Homo sapiens: one gene and its partner. The protein of the gene in region 1 interacts with the protein of each later gene in a biochemical or structural test. Each region holds a gene or a part of one and is shown in the gene's direction. Other genes may lie near its edges.

What was found. Proteins that work in one complex are often made in the same cells at the same time.
Region 2: the proteins of EWSR1 (region 1) and SMARCC1 form a complex in vitro, tested with the Homo sapiens proteins (one large-scale study listed by BioGRID).

Annotation. Positions count from the first base shown.
Region 1 is NC_000022.11:29,288,768-29,292,267, forward strand, and holds part of EWSR1 (RNA-binding protein EWS), read left to right. Parts: coding exon 1-19; coding exon of another isoform or gene 20-23; intron 24-1,645; coding exon of another isoform or gene 1,646-1,736; exon of another isoform or gene 1,737-1,917; intron 1,918-2,794; coding exon 2,795-2,832; intron 2,833-3,369; coding exon 3,370-3,402; intron 3,403-3,500. UniProt on the Homo sapiens protein: Binds to ssRNA containing the consensus sequence 5'-AGGUAA-3'. Might normally function as a transcriptional repressor. EWS-fusion-proteins (EFPS) may play a role in the tumorigenic process.
Region 2 is NC_000003.12:47,771,894-47,775,393, reverse strand, and holds part of SMARCC1 (SWI/SNF complex subunit SMARCC1), read left to right. Parts: intron 1-2,457; coding exon 2,458-2,577; intron 2,578-3,500. UniProt on the Homo sapiens protein: Involved in transcriptional activation and repression of select genes by chromatin remodeling (alteration of DNA-nucleosome topology).

The DNA of each region.
Region 1 (3,500 bases):
GAGGACGCGGTGGAATGGGGTAAGAGCAAACCTTTTCTCCTTTTACCTAATTTTGTTTCATCCATAGGATTTTCAGTGGAAAGAAGGGACTGAAAGACATAAGAAATTAATTTCTGCATTTCCATGGACAATCTGTTGAGCTCAAGCCATCTTCTAAAACATGGAAATGTCATCTTTGTGGCATATATTAAGTGGCAGTTTATTTTCTTTCCCTGCCAGTATACTTCGTTGGGTCGGGGAGAACAAAGAATGGTTTTGAAACCAGAGCTTTCAGTTCCCTTCATGGTTTCCAGAGGTGAGAAGCCTCTGTGGGTAGTAGATTTGGGATGGAACACACACAACCCTTCTAATGACCCTAAGTTGTTAACTAACTGCCTTTGAATGGTTGTCTTGAAATACCTGGTGTATATACTGCAGAAAAGGAATGCAGCTGTTTTCCACAGTGTTTGTCCCCAACTTCTGTTTGTACTCAGAATCGTTGAACATATGAAGATTTTGGTCCCATAATCCTTAAACTATAGCCTGAGGTGCACCTGATTACATAGAGTTTGGATGGAGCAAAGAAAAATCCAATAGCATTTTGCAGAGTAATGTATATAATTATGGGCTCACTTCCTACTGGAGATGTTGAAAGTCTAAATCGGTTTGACCATTTTGATTGATGGCACAATCTGGTTTAGAAAACTTTGTTTAGATCAATGACATAACCCTGCTGCCTCTGCCTGCCCTTCCCCTCCCTTCTCCCATCCCCTTTTCCCTATCTGGTGTCTGTACTTTGATGAAGGTGAGCTATAATATTGGTGGTTAACATAATCCAGAAGGCTTAGTTCTGTGTGTGTTCTGTCCCTATATAAACTGGTAAAGAAAAAAAAAAGTTATGCAGAATGTTAGATATTTACATTTGATACGGTGTGCCACTATTCAAGGAAAAATTAAATAGCATTTTTTAAAAAACAGAATGAACTTCAAAATTAAAGTTGATTTTTAACTTCCATATTAGCAAATACTCTTCACTACTGAAAGACAGTACTATTTTGCATATTCTGCATAACTTTAAGAAAGTCTTTAGTGAAATCTTTATTGGAAGAAAGTCATTTGACAACAGGCAAAAATTTAATGATTCGGTATGAAGTAAAATCAATCTTCTGATTTGGAAAATACTCTATTATAAAGGTTTCACTTCTTTTTGGATGTTTTAAAATAGACATAGACACTTGAAAGTACTATCATCACGTCTCAAATCACCTAGAATTCCTAGTATTTTTAAATTGCAAATACAATTTCAAGTTTATTTAAATACTCCAGAAGTTATAATCCTACTAATTGTGCTAGACTTTGCTAGTAGAGGGGGCCCCTCTTTCTGGATGAGAAGTCTCTCTTGCAGCCATAGAAGAGACCATGGCTTTCCCCATAGGTTTTTCAACAGACTGTGAAGCAGTCTGTCGGATCCTGTGGGGATAGACGGGCATTTCCCTCGTTGCCCCCCTTTTTATTGTGGTGTGGTGATGGTTTTCAGTGTCTTGTACAGGTAAGGCACTCAATGTTGTTAACATGCCCTTTTTCATTGCCTCAGTATTTTGATATTTTCATTGGCTGTTAAACGTGGAAACTTTTTAACATGCTTTGTCGCATTTATATGCTACAGGTTACAAAGTGAGAGCCTTGTATACACTTCAATACTTAAAAAGTACCCGTACTCAGTACTCAGCCGGCAGCATAATGAAAAGTGGGACTAGACACGGTGTCCATATGGAGAGGAAAAATATACATAGAATATTTTTAACAAAATGTATTCATTGTATAAATGGAATCCTTCTGTAACTTTGGTAACTGCATACTTGTTGTTTGGTAATGAACCAGAGGAGGTATAATACTCTAGAATTGTGTAACATTAAAGTGTAAACTTTTGTGTTTAAAGAGAGAGAACATTTTATGGTGTGTACTTTTAAAAAGGAAACAAAGCTGCATGCAACAGCTTGAAATTGTATATTCAGGTATTAAAGGTGCAATACTGGTTAGAAAAAACTCAGGGCCTCCCACTGGGGAGCTGCCTTTATTTAATTTTAAAGAAAACAAAATCTAACCCAAAAAGTCCAATTCATATTTCCCTCTCCCCTCTTTAAGTAATTTTACATGGCCATAGTCATTATTCTAACTGATATGTCTATAAAGTTGCACCCCCAGTCCGTTGAGCCTTGGTATTTGTTGTAAATTCTCCTTTCACAGCGATTGTTAAATCTATTCGTGCCCTGAGATGTATGGCTTTATGCTGAAGATTGGCTGGATGCGTCCTCTGATGTGTGTTGTAGGAATTTAATGTGGTTGTCTCCTGCTTTTATTATACTGTGACTTGTTAGGAAACCCTGGGCCTCATTTGGCTCTCCCTTGGGAGAGGTTGAGGGTGCACCTTTATGAACATGGAAAGGTTTATCACAGCAGTTAACCCCCACTTGCTCCTCCCCTCTATACCAAGCTCTTCTGGTTTTTCACCTGACGGGGTGGGTGTTTGGGATCTATTTTTTCTTGCTAATTTGCCAAGTATTGCACTATTAATACCAGCCCCCGAAATGAAAGGAACCAACCACACTGGTGTGTACAATCAGACAAGCAAGGTTGTATATTGAGGAAATTTGAGCAAGCTGCCCTGAAGAAAGGCATAGTGACAAGATGAGAGAGATGCATTGTTTGGAGATGTGTTTAGCCAGTGCCCTTCTTCCCCACGAGCCCCCCCAAGGCTCAGAGCGGTACTGGCTTTTAAAGGGAAAGGCCTTCATTTCTTCGTTTATCCCCCCAGCAGCGCTGGAGAGCGAGGTGGCTTCAATAAGCCTGGTGGTAAGTTTTTGAGTATTACCATAGATAGTGTTTAAAAAAAAATGCAGTCAGTTTTTAGAAAACTATAATTTTTTTATTAGTTTCATAAGTGGTTTAAAAATGATCTATACAAAAGAGACTAATGGGTACTGCCGGCATTGTCTTAGGGGTTAATAAGGTTAACCTATGGTTACAAAACAAAGGGTAACTTGAAGTATTGAGTAACTGCTTCTGTAATATGGGGGAGAATAAATTTTTAAATTTGGTTTATTTAGAGGAAAAATTTTGACTTAAATTTAACACTGATTTGGCACATAAGCATTGAGAGTGTATTTGGTTAATGGTTTAGAAGCAAACCAGCAAAGGAAAAAAGCAAACCCTAGCAAACCTTTCACAAATGTTAAAGAGACACTGCTCCATTTTAGCAGTGCGGGTCATTTTGAGTTTAATGAATCCCCATCAAATGGTGGTATAGTAGATAGCTATGTGTGTTTGTAAGGTTTGTAGCTTGCAAGACGTGCACTAATAATATTTTATATGATCTTTCCTGGTTGGCAGGACCCATGGATGAAGGACCAGATCTTGATCTAGGTAATTTTGAATTCTAGTTGTGCTTCATATCGTGCTTTGTAAATTAATGGTACAGAGGTAAATGCATGCGTAGAGTTCAGCAGCCTTATAGACCAGTG
Region 2 (3,500 bases), on another chromosome or scaffold:
GGTCAGGAGATCGAGACCATCCTGACTAACATGGTGAAACCCCGTCTCTACTAAAAATACAAAAAATTAGCCAGGCGTGGTGGTGGGCGCCTGTAGTCCCAGCTACTCGGGAGGCTGAGACAGGAGAATGTTGTGAACCTGGGGGGCAGAGCTTGCAGTGAGCCAAGATCGCACCACTGCACTCCAGCCTGGGCAACAGAGTGAGACTGTCTCAAAAAAAAAAAAAAAAGTACTATGTTGAGTATATTGGAGAAAAACTGACTTCAAATTTTCACTTGAAAGTATATGGGCCAGGTGCAGTACCTTATGCCTCTAATCCCAGTACTTTTTGGGAGGCCAAAGTGAGAGAATCACTTGAACCCAGGAGTTCTAGACTAGCCCAGAGAAGTTGGTGAAAACGGTTGTGTACAGAAAATTAAAAATCAGCCAGATGTGTTGGCACGCCTCTGTAGTCCTAGCTCTCTGGGAGGTGGAGGAGGAGGATCACTTGAGCCCAGGAGATTGAGGCTGCGGTGGCTGTCATTACACCACTGTATTCCATCCTGGGAGACAGCAAGAAACCACTGTCTTGAAAAAAAAAAGTATATGGTCCTTCAAAAACTAGGCTTGCTAGTTTTTGTTGCAAATTATCAATATAGTATAAGGAAGGGGAAAGTAGTATGTAGTTTTTAAAGTTTTTAAAATTGGCTGGGCACAGTACTGTAATCCCAGCACTTTGGGAGGCTGAGGCGGGTGGATCACGAGGTCAGGAGATCGAGACCATCCTGGCTAACATGGTGAAACCCCGTCTCTACTAAAAATACAAAAAATTAGCCGGGAATGGTGGTGGGTGCCTGTAGTCCCAGTTTATTGGGAGGCTGAGGCAGGAGAACGATGTGAACCCAGAAGGCAGAGCTTGCACTGAGCAGAGATTGCGCCACTGTGCTCCAGCCTGGGTGACAGAGCGAGACTCCAAAAACACACACACAAAAAAAGTTTTTAAAATTAATTATTTGAGACGGAGTCTGGCTCTGTCACCCAGGCTGGAGTGCATGGGGACAGGTGTGCGCCACCACACCCAGCTAATTTTTTGTATTTGTTTTTTAGTGGAGACGGGGTTTCGTCATTTCAGGCTAAGTGATGGAAGAAGACCCCATCTCAAAAAAAAAAAAAAAAAAGTAAATGATTGCCTTTTTATATGCTGTAAGTAAGTTTCAATGGTAGTAGCAGAAATTGTGTGCCCTTTGTCCTATGCATAATAATTGTAGACTTTGCAGTTGATGTAATTTTGACCATACACCACTCATCTAAAAAATATTTATTGTAATAGAGACATACCACATTAACCTTGAAATGTTGGATGGTAGTTCGAAAGTTAGCTCCGGCAAAAAAAAATAAAAAAATAAAAATTCTCTCGTCCAACTGAAAGGCAGGTATAGATGTTTTTCTTGCTTGGAATTGGAGGTTTAAAAATACTTTTTGAGGCTGAGTGTGGTGGCTCACGCCTGTAATCCTAGCGCTTTGGGTGGCCGAAGTGGGCGGATCATGAGGTCAGAAGTTAAAGACCAGCCTGGCCAACATAGTGAAACCCCGTCTCTACTAAAAATACAAACAAAATTAGCCGGGCATGGTGGTTGCGCGCCTGTAGTCCCAGCTGCTAGGGAGGCTGAGGGAGGAGAATCGCTTGAACTCTGGAGGCGGAGGTTGCAGTGAGCTGAGATGATGCCATTGCACTCCAACCTGGGTGAAAAACAAGACTCTGTCTCAAAAAAAAAGAAAAAAAATTTTTTGAGAGTATTGGCTACTCAAAGTGATATTGAACATGTAATTGCCAAATAAAACTTTTACATTTAACTCACTAATTTATTCTTTTCTTGTTGTGTTACCCATTATTTTTCCTTGCTGTGAAGCTTCCTAGCTGATGTGTCTACTACTGGTTTGGGCTTTTGACATTCTTTACATTAATATGGATAATATTTCACTTTTTTTTTTTTTTTTTGGTAAAAAACACAGGAGATTTATCTTTGTGAGGTCGAGGCAGGGGCAGGTCACATGAGGTCAGGAGTTTGAGGCTAGCCTATCCAATGTGGTGAAACCCCGTCTCTACTAAAAATACAAAAGTAGTTGGGGGTAGTGGCTCATACCTGTAATCCCAGCTACTCTGGAGACTGAGGCAGGAGAATGACTTGAACCCGGGAGGCAGAGGTTGCAGTGAGCCGAGATTGCACCGCTGCACTCCAGCCTGGGTGACAAGACCGAAGCTCCGTCTCAAAGAAAAGAAAAAAAAAATTAACCGTCTTAACCATTTTTAAATGCACACACATATTTGTTTTTGTAAGCTCCTTTATAGCACAGAGCGTGTCTCAGACATCTATAAATTTCCCATAACGTAAGTACTTAGTAGGTACTAGGAAGTAAGCCAACATTTTCTCCTGCAAAAATTGTACTAGTTTTTGAATGCCTGTCTTTATCTTGCAGTATGTTCATGCGGATGCTCCTACCAATAAAACACTGGCTGGGCTGGTGGTGCAGCTTCTTCAGTTCCAGGAAGATGCCTTTGGGAAGCATGTCACCAACCCGGCCTTCACCAAACTCCCTGTAAGTACATCAGCTTACTGTTATTTGGGCATCCTCAGTTGCTGTATACTTTTAGGTGTAGCATCCAGCTTTTTTCCTTTGCTGCTGCTAGCGTGTAGAATTTAAAAAAAAAAAGCAAAAAACAAATTTTAGTTATAGAATATTACTATTTTTTAACTGTAGGAAGCTGCTTTTTGAAGAGGCATTTAACATTTGCATTAAATATTGCAGCAGTCATTGTGAAGACCTAACAATATTTTACTATGTTGCAGTTCCCTATCCTCTCGCCGTACCGAGTCTTCTCCATGCTTTCTCCTGATGCAGCTCTTATGCCATAAATAGAATTTATGGAATTTTTTATATTTTGTAGGTGAGATACCTTCTGAAGTTGTGTGAGAATATAATTTTGGTGTCCTTGCAATTGTGTGTTTTATTTTTGTTTTTACAGACAGGATCTTGTTCTGTTGCCCAGGCTGGAGTGCAGTGGTTTGATCACAGCGCACTGCAGCCTTGATCTCCCGGCTCTAGCCATCTTCCCACCTCAGGTTCCCAAGAGGCTGGGACTACTAGCATGTGCTACCACGCGCATATGGGTGACTTTTAAATTTCTGTAGTGATGGGATCTTGCTGTGTTGCCCAGGCTGGTCTCAAATTTTTGGCGGGAAGGCGATCCTTCTGCATTGGCCTCTGAAAGCTCTTTGATTACTGGTGCGAGCCACCACACCAGCCCTTCTCTGCTATCTTTATTTTATTTAATTAATTTATTTATGAGACAGAGTCTCGCTCTGTCACCCAGGCTAGAGTGCAGTGGTGTGATTTCGGCTCACTGCAACCTGCAGCGATTCTTGTGCCTCAAGACTCCCGAATAGCTAGGATTACAGGTGCGCGCCACCACACCCAGCTAATTTTTGTATTTTTAGTAGACACATGGTTTCACCATGTTG